2 separate regions of the Homo sapiens genome follow, and region 2 is linked to region 1. Evidence: fine-mapped expression QTL. A gene starts in region 1. The other region holds a variant in brackets. All regions are shown on one strand. Distances are from middle to middle.

What was found. PIP is the estimated chance that this variant, and not a neighbour inherited with it, causes the effect.
Region 2: its variant is the best candidate, but not a certain one, in a credible set for the expression of FCHSD2 in whole blood (INTERVAL, PIP 0.53).

What each region holds. Positions count from the first base shown.
Region 1 is chr11:73,140,794-73,143,700 of GRCh38, reverse strand. FCHSD2 (FCH and double SH3 domains 2) reads left to right here and starts at 1,383. Exons shown (of 20, transcript NM_014824.3): 1 at 1,383-1,844. The coding sequence starts at 1,824. RefSeq lists enhancers at 235-374, 455-564, 2,435-2,664, 2,164-2,785, 2,885-2,907 and 1 more and silencers at 795-1,174, 1,335-1,714, 2,115-2,254.
Region 2 is chr11:73,108,935-73,111,841 of GRCh38, reverse strand. All of the region lies in intron 2 of FCHSD2 (FCH and double SH3 domains 2), which reads left to right. Among named protein-coding and RNA genes, the nearest start is that of FCHSD2, 32 kb to the left of the region's middle. The variant AG/G (reference allele first, on the strand shown) is at 1,691.

The DNA of each region.
Region 1 (2,907 bases):
CTGCACTTCTGAGAACAGCTGTCTGGGATCTCAACTTCTGAAAAAACGGTGGAGTAATCCAGCTCAGCCTCCACACAGCCCCGTGACTCAAAAAAAAAAAAAAAACCTCCCTGGGCATGGGGAAGAGGTATTCCTCTTCTGAGGACCCCAAGGGAGGTCGATAAACTCCCCCGTAGATGGTCTGAACAGAGCAGGAAGGTTCATGTGTGGTGGTGGGGTGCACTGCTTAGATAAGCACCCTCACTGGCAGATAAGGAAGCCGAGCTCACCTAGCCTGTTAAGGAGCAGGCAAAGTGGACTGGCACCCAGAGATCCTGACTCCCAGACAAGGGCTTCCTCTATGGCCTCTCCTGCCTCTTCTACTTTTCCTCGTGCTTATTATCCTGCACCTGTTTCTTTTTTAAAATAACCCATAGAACACTTCCTGACGCAGATTCTAGTCCTGCTGTGTAACCTTTAGAAAGGCTTCCCTCTATGGGCACTTGCCTCCCCGTCTGTGAAACGGGGGCCTCGGCCTTAACGTTCTCTTGGCTCCCTCTCAGCGGAGTCAGTGATGTTTGACTTGAATGCCCTGCAGTAGAGTGCCGCCGTTTCCTTTGCAGAGCAACTGCCTTTCCGCCCTACAATCGCAATGGCCTGGCACCTGCGGCCAGCCGCAAAGCGACTTGTCCTTGCTCGCCTCTCTCGCGCACATCTAGCTGGTAGGGAGAGTAGGGTGTTGAGGGGCTGAGAGGAAGAAAACGCCGGAATTCTCGTATCCCACAGGCATGCTGCGCCCCCCTCCCCACTGCAAACGTTTCCCTGCGAGCGTCGTCCCCCGCGCCCCCCGACACACACACACACACACACACACACACACACACACACACACACACACACACACACACACGCAAAGGCAGGCAGGAGGCGGGGGCGGCCTGTGCGCGTGCGTCGGCGCGGAGCCCTCTCCCGCCCACGTGCGCGCCCCCGAGCGGAGACGCGCGCGCCGGGGCGAGCTGGCGGGAAAGCGCGCGGGAAGCCCCCGGCTGGCTCCCAGCGTGGGGGAGGGAGGGCAGGAGGCGTCTGGAACGTGCCACTCTCGGAGAGAAAGGGGGGATTTTCGCGTGGCGCTGGCGTTTCTACACCTCCCACCCACCGACCAATCCGTTAGCTTCCCCCTTCCCCTGCCGCGGTACGAAGCCCCGTGCCGTGGCCTAGCTCCCTCCTGGCAGCCCGGACCGGCCCCTCGAACCCCGCTCTGGACAGAGCGGTTCCCTCAGCATCCGGAGCGGGGCGCTGCGCCGCGCGGCGAGGCCGGAAATTCCCGCGGCCTGAGTGGTGGAGCCCTAGCGGGGAGAGCGGCGCCACCTTCCTCCTCCCGGGCGGGCGGGGGCGTTAGGCCCAGCGAGGGCCGGGCCGCCTGAGTGGGTGGGGTGGGGGCCGCTGCGTCCGCCGGGAGCGGCGGCGCAGGCGGCCGACCGGGAGCGCGGACAACGCGGCTGCGGCTAACCCGCCGCCCGGCCGGCTGAGACCCTCGCGCCCCTGCTCCTGGGGCCCCCGCCCCCTCGCCGTCTCCGCCTCCTTCCTCACACACCCCCGGGCCGCCCGGGCCGCCCGGGCCCCAAGCCTTCCCGGTGCTCCTCCCTCGTCTCCTCACACTCGCTCTCTGGCTGGGGTCCGCCTGCCGCCCGCTGGCCTGCTCCCTCCGGGGCAAGTCTTGCTTCTTAAGCGCTCCTTTCACACACGCGCGCGCTCGCTGGGCCGTCCCCTCCTCTCCGGCCCTCCTCCTCCTCCTGGTCCTTGCTAACGCTGCCGTCGGGGAGGATTGATGTCCCTTCAGCATCATGCAGCCGCCGCCGAGGAAGGTAAGGGCGCAGCTGGGGGGCTTTGGGGTTCGGAGAGATGCGTACGCGGAACGCGGCTGGGGCGACCGCTGCGCCCCTTCCCCCTCCCGCAAGGGGCCGTGACCGCCCTCGTCTTGGGCTTGTCACCGACTTGCCGCCGGCTCCAGGTGGGGGGCGCGCGTGTGAGTTGCCTTTCCGACAGAGGGGCCGCCGGGGCTCGTCCGTCCTCTAACGCAGGAGACCCCCAGACATTTCACAAGAGTTTCGGGTGTGCATTTGTGTGTGTGCGCGCGCATGGCAATGCTGCCCGCTGCAAAGTGCATTCTCGGGGCTGCACCGAGGGGGAGGCGGGGACGCCCCTGCAGCTTTGCAGAGCCTTGTGCGTGTGTGATTGTTTAGTCTGCACCAGCTTTGAGCCCTCCAGCCGCTTGTCGCCAGCCCCGCCCGTTTGCAAATTTGCGGGGGATTTGTTTCTAGCCTAGCCTTAGGGTTTGGCCTGCTTTTCCCACGGGGCGGCCGAAAAGAAGTTGGAATAGTCACCGCCTCCCCACCCCAAGGGAAAACAAATTAAGGATTGACGGGTCCTGCCTCGTCCCCGGCTGAGGGGCGAGGAGGCTGTCGTGCTGTCTTCAGAAAAGCGAGGACCGGGCCCGGGAGGTGCGTGGGGTGTGCACTGCGATCCGGGGTTGGATGACCAGGGTGGGAGTGACGGATGCACCCGGCTTGTCATCAGTCTCCCCGCTGCGCCCTTCCCCAGCTTTCCCAGGGGCCGAGGCTGTGTCCTTGTCTTTTTAATCCTACAGATGGATACTGAATGTCTACTCTGGGCACTGGGTGGATGAGGCCGTTCTGTCCTCCCCTCGTGGGCAAACATTTGCCTAACGCCTAACTCACCCGTGTCTGCTGCCGCTGCTTTCTCTCTTTCCTAATCCGGGTTTCTCCATTTAAGTGAGTCCTTTTCTTTCGAACATGTACCCCCACCCCTCCGGGTGGTCCCACTGCTGAGGCCGAGATTCCAGACTGACCGTTAACTTCGAACCCTGGGGCCCCGGCCTGGCGGGCGAGGCTCTCTGGCCAGCAGGCA
Region 2 (2,907 bases), 32 kb after region 1:
CAGTGTTGTCATCAGTTTAAAATAATTGGGTTTTATGGTAGTATTTGCAAGCCTTGTGGTAACCTCAAATCAAAAATCATATAACAGATACACAAAAAATAAAAAGCAAGAAATTAAAACACCCCACCAGAGAAAATCACCTTCACTAAAAGGAAGACAGGAAGGAAGGAAAGAAGGAAGAGATGACCACACACCCAAAAATAAAATAACAGGAGTAAGTCTTTATCAGTAACAACATTGAATGTAAATGGATTAAACTCTTCAATCAAAAGACATAGAGTGGCTGACTGGATTGAAAAAAACAAGATCCAGTGACCTGTTGCCTACAGGAAACACACTTCACCTATAAAGACACACATAGACTGAAAAAAAAAAAAAGGATGGAGAAAGATATTCCATGCTAATGGAAGCCAAAAAAGAACAGGAGTAGCTATGCATATATCAGACAAAAACTTTTAGAAGAGACAAAGAAGGTCATTGTATAATGATAAAGAGGTCAATTTAGCAAGAAGATATAACAGTTGTAAATATATATGTACCCAATACTGGAGCACCCAGATATGTAAAGCAAATATTAGAGCTAAAAAGAGAGATAGGATCTTCCAAACAGAAAATCAGCGAAGAAACATCACTCTTAATCTGTACTATAGACCGAATGGACCTGGTAGTTACAGAACATTTCATCCAGTGGCTCCAGAATACACATTCCTTTCCTCAGCACATGGATCATTCTCAAGCATAGACCATATGTCAGGTGACAAAGCAAGTCTTAAAACATTAAAAAAAACCCCTGAAATAATAGCATGTATCTTCTCTGATCACAATGGAATAAAACTAGAAATCAATAACAAGAATAATTTTGGAAACTATATAACCACATGGAAATTAAACAATGTGCTCCACAATGACTAGTGGGTTAATGAAGAAATTAAGGAGGAAATTGAAAAATTTATTAAAACAAATGATAATGGAAACATGACATACCAACAACCCATGAGATACAACGACAGCAGTACGAAGTGGGAAGTTCATAGCTATAAGTACCTACATCAAACAAGAAAAAAAAATCTTCAGCTAGATAACCTAATGATGTACCTTATGCAGCTGACAAAGCAAGAGCAAACCAAACCCACAATTAGTAGAATAAAAGAAATAATAAAGATCGGAGCAGAAATAAATTGAAATGAAGAAAACAATACAAAAGACCAACAAAATGAAAAGTTGGTTTTGTGAAAAGATAATCAACAAACATTAGATAGACTTAGGAAAAAATAGAAAAGACTCAAAATCAAAGATGAAAAAGGAGACATTACAGCTAATACTGAAAAAATTAAAAAGATTATTCATGGGTACTATGAACAACTATATACCAATAAATTGAAAAATCTAGAAGGAATGCATAATTCATAGACACATACAACTTATCAAGATTGAACCTTGAAGAAATCCAAAACCTGAACAGAGCAATAACAAATAACAGGATTGAAGCCGTAATAAAATATCGCCTAGCAAAGCCAAGTCCAAGACCTAATGGCTTTGCTGCAGAATTCCACCAAACACTTAAAGAAGAACTGATACCACTGCTGTCAAACTATTCTGAAAAATAGAGGAGGAGGGAATATTCCTAAACTCATTCTGTGAGGCCAGCAGTACCCTGATACCAAAGACCAAAGACACATCAAAAAAAAAA[AG/G]AAGAAAACTACAGACCAGTATTCCTGATGAATACTGATGCAAAAATCCTCCACAAAATACTAGCAAACTGAACTCAATAATACATTAAAGGAAAATTGATCATGATCAAATGAGATATATCCCAGGGATGCAAGGATGGTTCAACATATGCAAATCAGTCAGTATGATACATCGTATCAAGAATGAAAAACCATATGATCATTTCAATTGATGCTCAAAAAGCATTTAATAAAATTTAATATTCCTTCATGATAAAAACTCAATAAACTGGGTATAGAAGGAACATACCTCAACACAATAAAAGCCATTTAAGACAGACCCACAGCTAGTATCACACTGAATGGGGAAGACTGAAAGCCTTTCCTCTAAGATCTGGAACATGGCAAGGATGCCCACTGTCACTACTGTTACTCAGTGTATTACTGGAAGTCCTAGCAAGAGCAGTCAGACAAGAGAAAGAAAGAGCATCCAAAGTGGAAAGGGAAAAAGTCAAATTATGCTTGTTTGCAGATGATTTGATCTTATATTTGGGGAAACATAAAGACCCCACTAAAAAACCATTAAATTCAGTAAATTTGCAGGATATGAAATTAGCATACAGAAATCAGTAAGATTTCTGTATGCCAACAGTGAACAATCTGAAAAAGAAATTGAGAAAGTAATCTCATTTACAGTAGCTACAAATAAAATGCCTATGAATTAACTGATGAAGTGAAAGATCTCTGCAATGAAAACTATAAAACATTGATGAAAGAAATTGAAGAGGACACAAACAAATGGAAAGATATTCCATGTTCATGGATTGGGAGAATCAATATTGTTAAAATGTCCATAGTTTCTATAGCAATCTACAGATTCAATGCAATCCCTATCAAAATACCAATGACATTCTTCACAGAAATAGAAAAAGCAATTCTAAAATATATATGGAACCACAAAAGACCCAGAATAGCTAGCCAAAGCTATCCTGAGCAAAAATAACAAAATTGGAGGAATCACATTACCTGACTTCAAATTATACTACAAAACAGCATGGTACTGGCATAAAAACAGACACACAGGTCAATGGAACAGAATAGAGAACCCAAAAGCAAATCCATACATCTACAGTGAACTCATTTTCGACAAAGGTGCAAAGAACATACATTGAGGAAAGGACAGTCTCTTCAATAAATGGTGCTGGAAAAACTGAATATCCGTATGCAGAAGAATGAA